2 linked regions of the Homo sapiens genome follow. The protein of the gene in region 2 binds, or shares a complex with, the protein of the main gene of each other region. Each region holds a gene or a part of one and is shown on either strand. Other genes may lie near its edges.

Region 1 (7,769 bases), on a different chromosome or scaffold from region 2:
CTTACTTGCTGGCCGGGCGCGGTGGTCCACGCCTATAATCCCAGCACTTTGGGAGGCCAAGGCGGGCGGATCACCTGAAGTCAGGCATTCGAGACCAGCCTAGCCAAGATGGTGAAACCTCCTCTCCAGTAAAAATACAAAGTTAGCCAGGTGTAATGGCGCACGCCTCTAGTCCCAGCTACTCAGGAGGCTGAGGCAGAACTGCTTGAACCCGGGAGGCCAAGGCTGCAGTGAGCCGAGATCACGTGCCACTGCACTTTAGCCTGGGCAAAGAGCAAAACTCATCTCAAATAAATAAATAAATGAATAAAAATTAGGCCGGGCGCAGTGGCTCACACCTGCAATCCCAGCACTTCGGGAGGCCGAGGTGGGCAGATCACCTGAGGTCAGGAGTTCAAGACCAGCCTGGCCAATGTGCTAAAACCCCGTCTCTACTAAAAATACAAAAATTAGCCGGGCATGGTGGCAGGCGCCTGTAATCCCAGCTACTCGGGAGGCTGAGGCAGGAGAATCACATGAACCCGGAAGGTGGAGGTTGCAGTAAGTCGAGATCACGCCATTGCACTCCAGCCTGGGCGACAAGAGCGAAACTCCGTCTCAAAAAATAAATAGATAAATAAATCAAATAAAAAATAAAAAAGCTCAATTGCTAGCTGCATGAATCAAAAGATAAAGATTCAAATAGCATCCTGTATTTGCAAAACCTCCCACCCCCCCAGCTAAGGGAGAAAGCCCTCTATAGTTCCTCAAGATAGATGTGCAGGATAACAAAATGTCCTTATCTAGTCTAAGGCACGGCTGGGTCACATTTCCACATAAGAAAGGAACAGGAGCACGTCTCACAAACTGGAGGCAGACGCGGTAGCTCACGCATGTCATCCAAACACTTTGGAAGGCTGAGGTGGGCGGATCACTTGAGCCCAGGAGTTCAAAACCAGCCTGGGCGACATGGCAAAACCCTATCTCTACAAAAAATACTAAAATTAGCCAGGTATGGTGGCAAACCTATAGTCCCCTGCCACTTAGGGGGCTCAGGTGGGAGGACTGTTTGAGCCCAGGAGGTCAAGGCTGCAGTAAGCCACGATTGCTGCCACTGCACTCCAGCCTGGATGAGAGAGAGACTGTCTCAGAAACAAACAGAAAGAAAGAAACTCAAAATGATAGAATAGTTTTAATGCTGAGTTTAGCAGCCCCAGTTGTGATCGGATCTCAAAATTATTATAGTGTGTTGTGTTACACAGCACCACTACATGCACAGATGTTACTTTGTCCCCAAACCATTATAGCAGCCCAGGCAGCCAGAAATATCCTCACATGAGCAGGGTGGTTCTTTTTACTATGATCTCTACTTTTGTTTCTGTTTGTAGTTTCATATTTTGAAAAATTTAATCTACATTTGCCCCACTCCCACCCCCTTCGGGCATCTTCTTTTCTTTTCTTTTTTTGAGGCGGAGTTTTGCTCTTGTTGCCCAGGCTGGAGTGCAGTGGCTGGATCTCGGCTCACTGCAACCTCCGCCTCCCAGGTTCAAGCCATTCTCCTGCCTCAGCCTCCCAAATAGTTGGGATTATAGATGCCCACCACCACGCCCAGCTTCAGGCTTTTTTTTTAAACCACAGGTGCATTTATCACTTTTACCTAAATAGGTTTTTGTAAAAGGACCACAAATGCTACTTCCATGAGGATTTAGGTAAGAAACAAATGGATGAATCAGGAGAAATAGTCTGCAATCTCCTCTACAGCATTAGTCTAGTATAAGGACCACCTACAAAGAAATGACCTGGTGCACCTGTTACAAAGGTAGAACCTTAGGTCTTGGATACACTAACTCTGAAACTCCAACTCAGGCTGTGAAGCCCAGGATTCTGCATCATTAACAAACACCCTAGGAAACTATTTTACCTGGCCCTTCACCCCTCCCATTTCCAACCCCAGCCCACCCCTACCAAATTTTCCAATTTAGAGCATCATTTTATACTTTTCTCTACCTCATACACAACTAAAAAACAGGAAAGGGGTGCTGTTTTATAAAAACTGCACACTACACATATTGTGCAACTTGCTTTTTCCCCCTTATCAGGCATCTCTCTTATTTTCCATCTAAACAACTTTTCCATCCTGAAGTTTCAGCAACTAGTTTCTCATTTGGATAACACTTATTCTGGAACTAATTTCAGCTACTGAATTTTAACTATTGATTTTATGTACCTGCTGATTAGCATCAGAGTTTTCCAATTACAAAGGTTCATAAAGTACTGAAATAGTGTTGGTATGAAATCTATGTAAATCATGACTAGGTTCTTATTAAAATTTAGTAACAAAATTACCCAGCCCAAAATCTCCTGGGGCTAGGCAGCTGTTTGTAGTTAATTAATCCTAAGGTGAGTATATTACTGAACTTCTTATAGGCAGTACAATTAAATGTTTATATGCAAATCAGGCATTGTTTTCTGTCTGCTGGAAACTATAGATATAAAGTCCAAACAGCTTAATGGGCTTTGTTAACACACTGCAAACTGCAGCACATTTACACATACACCATGTGATCCATAAAATTAAGCCGTCAGATTCCATAAAACTCAGCAGCTTATTATGCAATTCAGAGAACTAAAAACTCAGAAATTTCTTAATAAACTATGTGCTAAAATACCAAATATAACATACCCAAATATTTATGAGCAAACAAATTATTACCATGACATTCATAAATAAGGTAACTTTGTGTCTGAGGTTTCGTTTTCAAAATAAATAAAAAGGTGGGAAAAAATACGGCAGAAAATGAAGAACTGATAAAGCTGAGCAGTGGGTTAGTGTTCATTATATTTTGTCCTATTCTCTTCTGCATGTTAAAATATTTCATAAAAGGTAATCTGGGCCGGGCATGGTGGCTCACGCCTGTAATCCCAGCACTTTGGGAGGCCGAGGCGGGTGGATCACGAGGTCAGGAGTTCAGGATCAGCCTGGCCAAGATGGTGAAACCCCATCTCTACTAAAAATATAAAAATTAGCCAGGTGTGGTGGTGGGTGCCTGGAATCCCAGCTACTCAGGAGGCTGAGTCAGAGAATTGCTTGAACCCAAGAGGCAGAGGATGCAGTGAGCCGAGATCGCACCACTGCACTCCAACCTAGGCGACAGAGCAAGACTCCGTCTCAAATTAATTAATTAATTAATTAATTAATTAAAAGGTAATGAGGCTGGGCACTTTGGGATGCCCAGGCAGGCAGATCACTTGAGTTCACAAGTTCAAGGCCAGCCTAAGCAACATGATGAAACCCTGTCTCTACAAAAATTAGACAAAAATACAAAAATTAGTCACTACAGGTGCACACCTGTAGTCCCAGATACTCAGGAGGCTGAGGTCAGAGGATGGCTTGAGCCCAGGAGGCGGAGGTTGCAGTGAGCTGAGATCACACCACTGCACTCTAGCCTGGGTGTTAGAGCCAGGCCTTGCCTCTAAATAAGTAAGTAAATAAATAAATAGGTAATCTGTAGAAGTAATTAAAAGTAATTTTCCAAATTTTTCTCTCCCCTATCCATGCCAGCCAAGGTTTGTAAAATTCCACTTCAAATTTTTTATCTCTGGGAATAACAATGTTGTCTCTAACTCCGTATTTTCAAAACCAACACTAAGTTACAGCCTGGTGTGTAAGTATTCCTATAATTTCTTAAATATAAACTGACTAAAAATATGCAAATAGATCATTTCTGACAACAAATGATCAATGCATAAAACTGCTTGGCAACTGGCTGAGCGCGGTGGCTCACGCCTGTAATCCCAGCACTTTGGGAAGTCAAGACAGTTGAATCACTTGAGATCAGGAGTTCAAAGCCGGCCTGGCCAACATGGTGAAACCCTGTCTTCACTAAAAATACAAAAATTAGCCAGACATGGTGGTGGCACGCCTGTAATCCCAGCTACTTGGAAGGCTGAGGCATGAGAATCGCTTGAACCTGGGAGGTGGAGGTTGCAGTGAGCCGAGATCACAGCACTGCACTCTGGCCTGGGCAACAAGAGAATCGCTTGAGTCTGGGAGGCAGAGGTTGCAGTGAGCCAAGATCACGCCACTGCACTCCAGCCCGGACGACACAGTGAAACTCCATCTCAAAAAAAAAAGGCGGGGGTTGGCAACTATGAAAATAAAAAATGAGAGAACATACCAAAATGAGTAACCAGAGGTCAAAAACAATGAAGACTTGAGGCAAAGAAACGTCTATGCTAATAATCTCTTCCAACTTCAATTATGACCAAAATGAACAAATCCTGTTCCAGCCTAATCCCTTCCCAGTTTGGACTCATAGTTCAATACATTCAGATGTGAAGACAAAGAAAAAAGGGATACTGTCTGCTAGTGACTGAGCAAGAAGAGACTAGGACTTCCTATTGGCCACACAAAACTGCCAAAAGCTGGCACTCTTTAACCCATTTAAACCCTTAAATATTCCAATTTCCACACTGTTGTGCACATCAATAGTTTCTGCCTTTTTATTACTGGGTAGTATTCCATTGTACTACAGTGTGTTTATCCATTCTCTAGCTGAAGTACATCGAGCTGTTTGCAGTGATTACAAGTAAGGCTACTGTAAACATTTGTTTAGAGGTTTTTGTGTCAAGACAGGTTTTAATAACACTAAGGCAGGCCGGCACGGTGGCTCACGCCTGTAATCCCAGCACTTTGGGAGGCCGATGTGGATGGATCACCTGAGGTCAGGAGTTCGAGACCAGTCTGGCCAATGTGGTGAAACCCCATCTCTACTAAAAATACAAAAATTAGCTGGGTGTGATGGCGCGCGTCTGTAGTCCCAGCTACTCGGGAGGCTGAGGCAGAAGTATCGCTTGAACCCGGGAGGCGGAGCTTGCAGTGAGCCGACATTGTGCGACTGCACTCCAGCCTGGACAACAGAGCAAGACTCTGTCTCAAAAAAAAAAAAAAAAATTTCCTTCCCATGACTAGCACAATCTAAACCTGAAGTATGATTTCAGAACTATGCTCATACTTAGAGCCAATAATTTTCTGGGTGCTTCCATTGCTTGTAGGCCCCCTAACATCTTGATTGCAGCAGTAATGGGAAGGAGGGAACCAGTTTAGACAGCCACTTTCCCCAATTCCTCCAGACTGTGCGAAACCACAGGACAAAGGTTCTGCAACAAATGAAGTGCAAGGAAAAAGAAAGAGACAGGAGGAACCTATGAACTGAAAAAGATTTAAGAGATAAATCATTAAATCACAATGTACTGTGAAATGAAAAAGATATAAGAGAAACCAACCAATCAAAATGTTATCAGTTTTCTTGGAAGCCTGACTGAAACTGAAAAACAAAGTTTAAAAGAATGGGTAAAACAGAACAGTGACTAGATATTTTATTATTTTAATTTTAGGTGTAATCATGGTATTATCTTTTTAAGTCCCTACACAGAAATACATACTGAAATATTTATGGATAAAGTGGTATGTCTAAGATCTGCTTCAAAATAATGGGAAGAGTAGAAGTGACCAGTGTACAAATTAAACAAAGCTGGCCTAAGCTTGTAACTGTTGAAGCTAGGTGATGAGTATATGAGGGGTTCATTTTACTACTCACGGTAGTTTTTTTTGTTATTTTGTTTTGAGACAAAGTCTCACTCTGTTGCCCAAACTGAAGTGCAGTGGCACGATCTCGGCTCACTGCAACCTCCACCTCCTGGTTCAAGAGATTCTCCTGCCTGAGGCTCCCAAGCAGGTGGGATTACAGGCACGCACCACCAAACCCAGCTAATTTTTTTATTTTTAGTAGAGATAGGGTTTCACCATGTTGATCAAGCTGGTCTCAAACTCCTGACCTCTGGTGATCCATCCACATCAGCCTCCCAAAGTGCTGGGATTACAGGCGTAAGCCACCGTGCCCAGCCTACCCTAGTGTTATTAAAACCTGTCTTCACACACTGTGCCCGGCCTGTTGTTTTGTTTTTCTGAGACAGAGTCCTGCTCTGTTGCCCAGGCTGGAGTATAGCGCCAGCCGCTCTCTACTTTTCTGTATGTTTGCAGTCTCAAGCAATCCTCCTGTCTTGACTTCCCAAAATGCTGGGATTACATGCGTGAGCAACCCCTGGCCTCCTGTATTTTAAAACTCAGACCTACATATCAAGCTCTTGAGAAAAACAATTCATATCACTGATAGCAGAAGGTCACATCTGATAAAACTATTTAACTGCTCCCCACCAATTCTGTCCCTCTGATTTCCCCTCCTGTGCCTTTTCTTCTTTTTTTTTTTTTTTTTTTTTTTTTTGAGACAGAGTTTCACTCAGTCGCCCAGGCTGGAGTGCAGTGGCGTGGCGTGATCTCAGCTCACTGCAACCTTCGCCTCCTGGGTTCAAGCGATTCTCCTGCAACAGCCTCCCGAGGAGCTGGGATCACAGGCTCACGCCACCATGCCCGGTTAATTTTTTTGTACTTTTAGTAGAGAGGGGGTTTCACCACGTTGGCCAGGCTGGTCTGGAACTCCTAACCTTGGGTGATCTGCCCACCTCAGCCTCCCAAAGTGCTGGGATTATAGGTGTGAGACACCATGCCCAGCCCTTTTCTTCTTTCTAAGCCTTAGATCCTGCTAAACCCAACTTGTAGCACTTCTTCCTCCTTGATTTTTATTTTTCATTTTTCGTCTGAATTATTTTCAGTGTTCTAATCACTGCTCATTACATGTTACACAGATACTGCCCTCAGATGTTAATGTCTCACCTACACCTTTCAGTCTGGTCCCTAAGTGATATCTACTCTCCTTCAGCCAGATATAACCGGTGAACAACTATTTCCAAAATACAAGGCTTCTAAAAGACATCACAGAAAAACAGGAAGTATATTCTGAATCCCAACCCTCAGCTTTTTCATTAAACAAAACTCCAATAGGACAACTAACTATAATATAAATCATTTTACTGAACACTACAAACAATACTGATAAATTGATTCCTAAATGATTAATTCTATTAAAAAAAATTTCAAGGCCAGGCATCGTGGCTCACACCTGTAATCCTAGCACGGTGGGAGGCCAAGGCAGGACTGCTTGAGCCCAGGAGTTCGAGATCAGCCTGGGTAACATAGCGAGACCCCATCTCTAAAAAAAAATTGTAAAAATTAGCCAGGCATGGTAGCACACGCCTGTAGTTGTAGCTACTCAGGAGGCTGAAATGGGAGGATCACTTGAGCCCAGCAGTTGTAGGTTAAGTGAGCTATGATCACGCCACTGCACTCCAACCTGGGCAACAGGGCAAGACCCGGTCTCAAAAATAAACACAGGAAAAAATATATAGATCAGCAAGATACACAATAACAAAACTATAACTATTCCAGCCATTTATCAAGCAAAGAATTAGGGAAAAAACTTTTTCAGCTTTGTGATGTCCCAAAAAATCTAATTCAAAGGATTAGTGGCAAAACAAGCTGATATGTAGGATTTTTGGTTAAACCATTTTCCCCTTACAAAACAGAGAATAATGTGTGTTCCCTGTTTGTATGCCAAAGTCAGCAGTATCTGAAGAACTGCTGGATGGCAAGATTATGCATATTCATAACCATACACCTGACATAATACGTGGAAAGATCTAAAAGATTTTATCTGATTTGAGTAATTCCAGTTCTTTTTATATTTCAATCCTGGAAAGCATAAGCCACATTGGCCAGGGTAAAATATAATCAGATTGGTTAAAGAGGATGTGAGGCCTGATCCTAATAGAAATGTTTGAAAGGGTTCAGGCATGGTGGCTCATGCCAGTAATCCCAGCACTTTGGGAGGCCA
Region 2 (7,769 bases):
TATGTGGGGGCAATAGTCACTAAAGGCTTCTGAGATGCACTTGAAAGATAAGTAGGTGGGGTGCTTCTGAGAAGACTCTTCCATGTTCTTTTTCCTGCCAGTTGCACATGTTTTAAAAAAATACTTTCCAGCTTGGGTGGAATCTTGAAAACTCACCATTCTTCCTTCTGGCAGAACCATGTTTGTTATGTTTCCTAAGAAAAAATGTAGCATATATGAAACGTGGGTTGCTCAAAGGGAAGTGTTGCCACAAAAAGGAAGGAAATAGCAAATATTTTAAAGTTATAAAAACCAGCAATTTGTATTTACTTTTGATCCTGGCTTCTTATGGTATATCCAGTTGTTACAAAGTACAGCTTTTTGTTACCTGGCAGCAGACCTAATGAAATAAATGTGTTATGTTGTCTAAGTAATAATGTCAACGTTAATTAGGGTAAGTTTGGGTCTTGGCAGTCTTATTAATGTACTTATTACATTTCAGTAGTTGCGGTGGGGAGAATTAATGAACAAACTATTGTATATTAAATGCTTAATATAGCGAAAATAAAGAATACACACTTTTTAAGGAATAGATTAACTAAAACTGTAAATAAAATTAACATAAAAGGAGGAAAGCAAGGAAATAATGAGAAGAGGATTCCGGGGAAATTACATGAATGGGTTGGGGGAGTAGTATGGTTGAGTGTGGTTTCTTAGTCTAGATCCTGTCTTGTTTTGGGTGGTGAATTCACAGGTGCTTGCAGCATTATAATAATTAAACAAAAGCAGGTAATAAGTGTGTGAATGGATGAGAGTGTGATGTTACTATGATTAATCCCATTCTGTGAACTTAAAATTCAGTGAAAATGAGAAAAACGAAGAAAGCACTTTTGCATTTGCTGTGATGCAGAGATTTGATTTTATAAGCTCAATGTTACAGAAAACTAGCAGGTGCTGGTAAGATGACATCAGTTTCTAATATTTAAAGCGTTTTGCAGGTTTGAGAAGAGAAATGAGGACCTTTAAATGAGCATGAGATTTGCTGCCTGATGATTTCTGAAACTTTTGCGCAATGCAGCAAATCAACTGGAATTGTCAGTCAGCCATCTTAAATGACATGGAATCAGAGGAGATGTGTGGTCTCATAAAATCTCATTAATTCACTATTTAATTTTTGCTAAATATTGAATCTATTGATGGAAGAACTGTTGGCAGCTGAGATCTAGTACACTGCTAGATTTTTAGCCTCAAAGTTTAGAGAACTCTTTTCATCAGAGTTGACTCTTCTGGGGAGGGTGAGGAGTGTTGCCTCCCTCTCTGGGGGTTACTTCCTTCCCTTATTCCCCAGTGCTGCCTCTTTGCCTATTTATTTTTTATTTTATTTTTTTGAGACAGTCTCGCTCTATCATCCAGGCTGGAGTGCAGTGGTGCAATCTTGGCTCACTGCGACCTCCGCCTCCCGGGTTCAAGCAATTCTCCTATCTCACCCTCTTGTCTCAGCTGGGACAGGACTACAGGCGTGCAGCACCACACCTGGCTAGTTTTATATTTTTAATAGAGATGGGTTTTCACCACGTAGGCCAGGCTGGTCTCAAACTCCTGACCTCAAGTGATCCGCCCGCCTCGGTCTCCCAAAGTGCTGGGATTACAGGCATGAGCCACCGCAGCCGGCCCATTATTAGTATTTTAATAAAGCTTATTAAATGCTTGCTATATGACAGAAATTGTAGATGCAAAAATAAATAAGTGAATCTTTCCCCTCGAAGTTTAATGGGCATTTGGTTAACCCATTTCTGGTGGCACTAACGTATTCATAAACACTTTCGGTAAAGTTCTCAAGTTATAAAGAGAAATGGGTTGAGTATCCCTTACCCAAAATGCTTGGGACCAGAAGTGTTTCAGATTTCGGATATTTTTAGATTTTTAGAATGCCTGCATATACATAATGAGATACCTTGAGGATGCGACCCATGTCTAAACACAAAATTCATTTATGCTTCATATATACTTTCTACACATAGCCTGAATATGCAATATATGTCATACTTTTAATAATTTTATGCATGCAAAAAGATTTCACTCTGTTTTTGACTGTGACCCATCACATGAAGTCAAGTGTGGAATTTTTTTTTTTTTTTTTTTTTTTTGAGACAGAGTCTCACTCTGTCACACAGGCTGGAATGCAGTGGTGCAATCTTGGCTCACCGCAAGCTCTGCCTTCTGGGTTCACGCCATTCTCCCGCCTCAGCCTCCTGAGTAGCTGGGACTACAGGTGCCCGCCACCATGCCTGGCTAATTTTGTTTCTGTATTTTTAGTAGAGACGGGGTTTCACCGTGTTAGCCAGGATGGTCTCGATCTCCTGACCTCGTGATCCACCCGCCTCAGCCTCCCAAAGTGCTGGTATTAGAGGTGCGAGACACCGCACCCGGCCTGGTGTGGAATGTTCTACTTTGGGGTCATGTTGTTGCTCGGAACGTTTTAGGTTTTGAAGGATTTCAGATTTTCATACTGGAGATAGTCTGTATTGAGAAAAGCAAATATCTAGAGTTTAGTTTGAGTTGCAAACAAATTTTGATTTATCTTTGTGATTTCCCAGAAAGTCGCATTGTTTATTTCTCAGAATCTGTTAGTATTCCCTTTCCATTTTAAGAATAAAGAAAGAACAGAAGAACCTGTAGTTCAGTAGGCTTTGGTTTGCTGACCAGTTGGATGAAGAGGGCTCAAAAGATTAAACTAAGTTAGATGAAAGGTGCATGGTCATTTCTGAAGAAATGTGTTTGGGAGCCACAGTGCTAAGCTGGACACTCAGCATGGTTTTTCTGTGCTGTTGCTCTGTTTGAGTTTTCTTAGATTAAAATTTAAGGGTATGTATCTAGATGTGAACAATGAGTTTTGAGTTCTGGGTAAGCTGGAAGAAAAGTGTACAAAAGCCTCAAAAGCTGTTTGGTGCAGTGTTGTTCCTTCTGGCCAGTGATTATTGGCCAGAAATTTCTAATTGAGAGGGCTTCGCAAATGGAGTATAAACTGCAGTTTGGCCTCATTTCCTATTTAGCTGTGGGTTGGATATTGATCTTAGTCTGGGGATAGAGCAGTGAACAGAACAACCTGGATCTAGGTTTTCTTGGAGTTCAGAGTTATTAAACTAGGCTCTGAAGTGGACATCAGGGGATTCCCTCCAAGACTTTGAGGACATGGTTATATTTCATCCATATTTCTTAAGGAATGGAGTTCATTATTTTTTCTTGATTTGGCCTCAGTGCTTCAGGCCTGTCACGAGACATCCCCAAGTTCCTGAAAAAGGTCAGTTTTGCACTGAAGACATCTATCAGGAGGAGAGTCTGTCTGCATCCCGGCATCCCTTCATTCTTTTCTTTTCTTTTTTTTTTGGCGGAGTCTTTATCTGTCACCCAGGCTGGAGTGCAGTGGTGTGATCTTGGCTCACTGCAACATCCATCTCCCGGGTTCAGGCGATTATCATGCCTCACCCTCCGGAGTAGCTGGGATTACAGGCACCCACCACCACGCCCAGCTAATTTTTGTATTTTTAATAGAGACAGGTTTTCACCGTGTTGGCCAGGCTGATCTCTTAACTCCTGACCTCAAGTGATCCGCCCACCTATGCCTCCCAAAGTGCTGGGATTACAGGCGTGAGCCACCGTGCCTGACCATCCCTTCATTCTTATGTGATTCATTTGAGCAGTCGGCCATCAATACCCCTGGACAGTCTGCTTTCCCTGCTTCTCTACGGCCTTGCGGGGACCTTTCATTTAAAAATCAAAATGGAGAGGTTTTAGTTAATTTGAGGGTTCACGTATGAAGGAATGGAAGAAACTAAAAAGTGGTGACAGTTTTCTGGGGTGCTGACTTCAGGCAGGGAGTTACTGTACTTAAGACCAGGGCAGTTCTTCTGAGGGAACAGAAGTTGGTGTGCACTCCGTCCCCCACTCCACACAGTGTGGTACCAACATCAGCGAAGGTGTTGGGGCGGCAGGGTCTTAGAATCCCTGTAATGGGGGAGCTGAGAAGTAAGAGTACCTTCAAGAGAAATGCTTGCCGAATCAGACCTAAGGAGGGTATGTGTTAAATATTTTCCTCCTCTCCTGAGCCACAGAACACAAGCAAATTAGGCTTTTCAATAACACGGTTTCCATGGGAAAATGCTTTATGGGCCCCCTGGGAACTGACAGACTTATTTGTCCATAAACTGGGAACTACTGTGCTAAGCATTTACTTGCAATTTGTGGGTTTCTGTTTAAATTAAGTTCTCTTTCTGTCTGTGAGATTGATTTCTTATTTGAAGAAGTAAGCTATGTTGGTGGGTTTCAGAATGTTGATTTTTTTTTTAAAAAGTGGCAGTTGGGGTTCACTGGCGAGGGCTCTGGAGTTGGCCTGGCTGGGTTGGAAGGGGCTTCCGCTGTGGCCTTGGGCAGATTGATTCCCTAAACCCCAGCATCCATGTCTGTGCAGTGCTGGGCTTTCATGGGACCTGCTGCCGATGCTGCATTGCATGTCATGCTTTGCGCCTGCTGACTCGGTTTTTGTTTCCACGTGTTCCTCTGTTCTGCACGGAAGCTGTGTGTTGCTCGTTCACATGCAGATTGTTGATTGTCTCTTTGTAATCACTATCATTAAAGATGACAGATTTCCACTTGGTGTGATATGAGGAAATCAGAGTATTTAAGATGTAACCAGTCTACTCCCCCCTTGATAATTGTAATTGACAAAATCACATCTAAGAGATCATTTCTGTCATTTTTTTCCCTAGGAGTACGTTTAAATTTTTTCTTTATAAAAGGGTAGCTAATTGTGCTACATCAACCTGCTAATTGGTGTTTTTGTAAAGCTTCTACTTTTTGGCACTGACATAAATAGAATTTTTTAAAAATTGGATATATGTAATTAATAATGTTCCAATTCTTACCTCATTATGTGCCCTAGCATTGAAGGATTTCACTCATGGATCACTTGACTGCATGATCTTATAGATGGAAAAATGAATTTTAGAGGCTTATTTTAAAAATAATCCATGGTCTAGCTTCATGTATCAGGAATAGCCCTACATTAATGGTACCAGGAGCCTGGGCCTCTGTTGCTGAAAGGTCCTGGACCTTTTACCTCTAAAATTTCATGATACTTATTTTAACATGAAAAGCCTTTATTGAATTGTGCATTCTTTAATCCCCACCCCTTTTGCCTTTCAGCATTAAACTGAAGAAAAGATGTCCCTGTACGATGACCTAGGAGTGGAGACCAGTGACTCAAAAACAGAAGGCTGGTCCAAAAACTTCAAACTTCTGCAGTCTCAGCTTCAGGTGAAGAAGGCAGCTCTCACTCAGGCAAAGGTAAAGACAAGCCCAGAGCATGAGAGCAGAGGCCTCCAGAGTGGGTTCCTCATTAGGATGACAAGGAATTTGGTTTCAGCTTGCTCTTCTGCCTTTGTATTGGGTAAATGGTGTTAAGCATTTGTAGGGGGAGAGGAATGAGGAGTTTAAGGCCACTTTGCTACTCCTGGCTCCTGGGAATAGGAACATTTCGTGGGGTAGGAATGAAGAAAAACAGTACTCTGCGGGGGCTGGGCGCAGTGGCTCACGCCTGTAATCCCAGCATTTTGGGAGGCCAAGGCAGGCAGATCACGAGGTCAGGAGATCCAGACCATCCTGGCTAACAAGGTGAAACACCGCGGGCGCAGTGGTGGGCACCTGTACTGCCAGCTACTCGGGAGGCTGAGGCAGGAGAATGGCGTGAACCCGGGAGGCAGAGCTTGCAGTGAGCCGAGATCGCGCCACTGCGCTCCAGCCTGAGCGACAGAGCAAGACTCCGATTCAAAAACAAACAAACAAACAAACAAAAAAACAGTACTCTGAACCAGCAGTGACACTGCTTTTCAAACTTAAGTAGTGGAGGTCTAAGATTGAGTGAGAACTTGTTTAAGGTGCTAATTTTGTAGCCTTACTCCTGATATTCTGGTAAACTGTAGTTCAGGCTGGAGCCCCAGGAGTGGGAATTTTTAAGTAGCATTCCTACTGGTTTGGTGGAGGTAGTTTGGAAGCAGCACTTTGGGAAGAAGCTCCACAGAATACCTAAGCTGCTGCGTGCAACTTATTGAGGGCTCAGGTTGATTGTGAAGGCGTCAGGCATAGGTAGTCTGGATGCTGATTGCTTTTGTTTCTGTTGTGTACATGTTGGGTATTGGCAATGTCCTTGAAATAACATGTAAAACATTAAAAACCTAGTTGTCGACTGGATATTTGCCATTAAAATGTAGGCATGAGAATGGTATTATGGTTTGTTTACTACTTTAGAGATCTTTATGTTCTAGAGTATGCATTCGTAATGGAGGCTATATCCCCCCAAACAGAGCGAATATTGGTCTTTTTGGGGGTGAAAAAACCTTGCTCGTGTTGTGCACAGTGTATCTGTGGTGTGAAAATTTCATGTGCGGGAGAAAATTTAGTCAAAGGCTCCTTGCTGGGGAGGCAGTAATTAAAGTTGAGAAAAAGTACTTTAGAGATGTGTACTGAAATATTTACCGATAAGATGATGTCATTTTTGGGATTTACTTCTAAACAATTCAGTCCCGGGCAGGGGAGGGAGGGAAGAACAGAACTACCCATGAGTTGATAATTGTTGAAACTGGATGTGGATAGTAGAGACTTAAGAATTAATATTAATCTCTAATTTCATGTTTGAAAATTTCCGTAATACACAGGTTTTTTGTTTTTTTTTTTTTTTTTTTTTTTTTTTTTTGAGACGTAGTCTCACTTTGTAGCCCAGGCTGGAGCGCAGTGGCATGATCTCAGCTCACTGCAAGCTCCGCCTCCCAGGTTCACGCCATTCTCCTGTCTCAGCCTCCTGAGTAACTGGGACTACAGGCGCCCACCACTGCGCCTGCGGTGTTTCACCTTGTAAGCCAGGATGGTCTCGATTTCCTGACCTCGTGATCCGCCTGCCTTGGTCTCCCAAAGTGCTGGGATTACAGGCGTGAGCCACCGTGTCCGGCCAATACACAGGTTTTTTTTCTTAAAAGTTCTACTCATTTTTCTTTTCCCTTTACCACATCAATAGATACTTACATGGAAGTGCTTACATTTGATTGTTCAGTATTGTAGAGAGGTTTTTTTGTGTTTTTAAAATTCATCATTACCAAATTTAGATTTTTTGGATGCCAGTATTTTGTGTTTTTTTTAAAACAAGGTTTCATTCCAAATGTAAGGAGGGTTAGCAAAACCTCGTTTTTCTCTTTAATTTTTTTTAAAAGTACATTTATAAAATCTTTGTAGATTTCATGTAACTTTTGCTTTGCAGGGAAGATGCAGGTGTGAGCCACCGTGCCCGGCCTCATATAGATTTTTAAAACTTGAGGTAGCTTGTGAAGTTATTTCTACTAACTTTATAAAACTTTTGAGATTGCTATGTACAGTTAGTTTTGTGGGTTTTTTTTTTTAAGGGAAGTGAAGATTGCATTCTCTTAGGCTGTTTAGTTACTCAGAATACTAGATTGGCCTAGCCAAACCTGTAAAGGTATTTATTTGGTAGAGAAAATTTGAAGCTGTGGTTTCATTTGTATCTCCATTTGAAAAAATACAGTTGTTTCTTGGTGTCCACAGGGGATTGGTTCCAGGACCCCCCTGCCCATACCAAAATCCAAGCGTGCCCAAGTCCCTTATATAAAATGGTGTGGTATTTGCACGTAACTAACACACATCCTCCCATATTTTAAATCATCTGTGGATTGCTTGCAATACCTAACACAATGTAAATGCTGTGTAAAAAGTTGTTATACCGTATT

What was found. The genes of interacting proteins can lie anywhere in the genome.
Region 1: the proteins of RBM17 (region 2) and SF3B1 are in contact, whole or in part, in a crystal structure (PDB 2PEH), measured with the Homo sapiens proteins. Residues at the interface, in NP_001139019.1 of Homo sapiens: Leu309, Met312, Val313, Asp319, Asp321, Leu322, Glu325, Thr326, Glu329, Leu372, Arg375, Tyr376, Phe377, Gly378, Gly379, Val382; in NP_036565.2 of Homo sapiens: Arg334, Ser336, Arg337, Trp338, Asp339, Glu340, Thr341, Pro342.

Annotation. Positions count from the first base shown.
Region 1 is NC_000002.12:197,424,868-197,432,636, forward strand, and holds part of SF3B1 (splicing factor 3B subunit 1), read right to left. Parts: intron 1-7,769. UniProt on the Homo sapiens protein: Component of the 17S U2 SnRNP complex of the spliceosome, a large ribonucleoprotein complex that removes introns from transcribed pre-mRNAs.
Region 2 is NC_000010.11:6,091,867-6,099,635, forward strand, and holds part of RBM17 (splicing factor 45), read left to right. Parts: intron 1-5,181; 5' UTR 5,182-5,199; coding exon 5,200-5,322; intron 5,323-7,769. UniProt on the Homo sapiens protein: Splice factor that binds to the single-stranded 3'AG at the exon/intron border and promotes its utilization in the second catalytic step. Involved in the regulation of alternative splicing and the utilization of cryptic splice sites.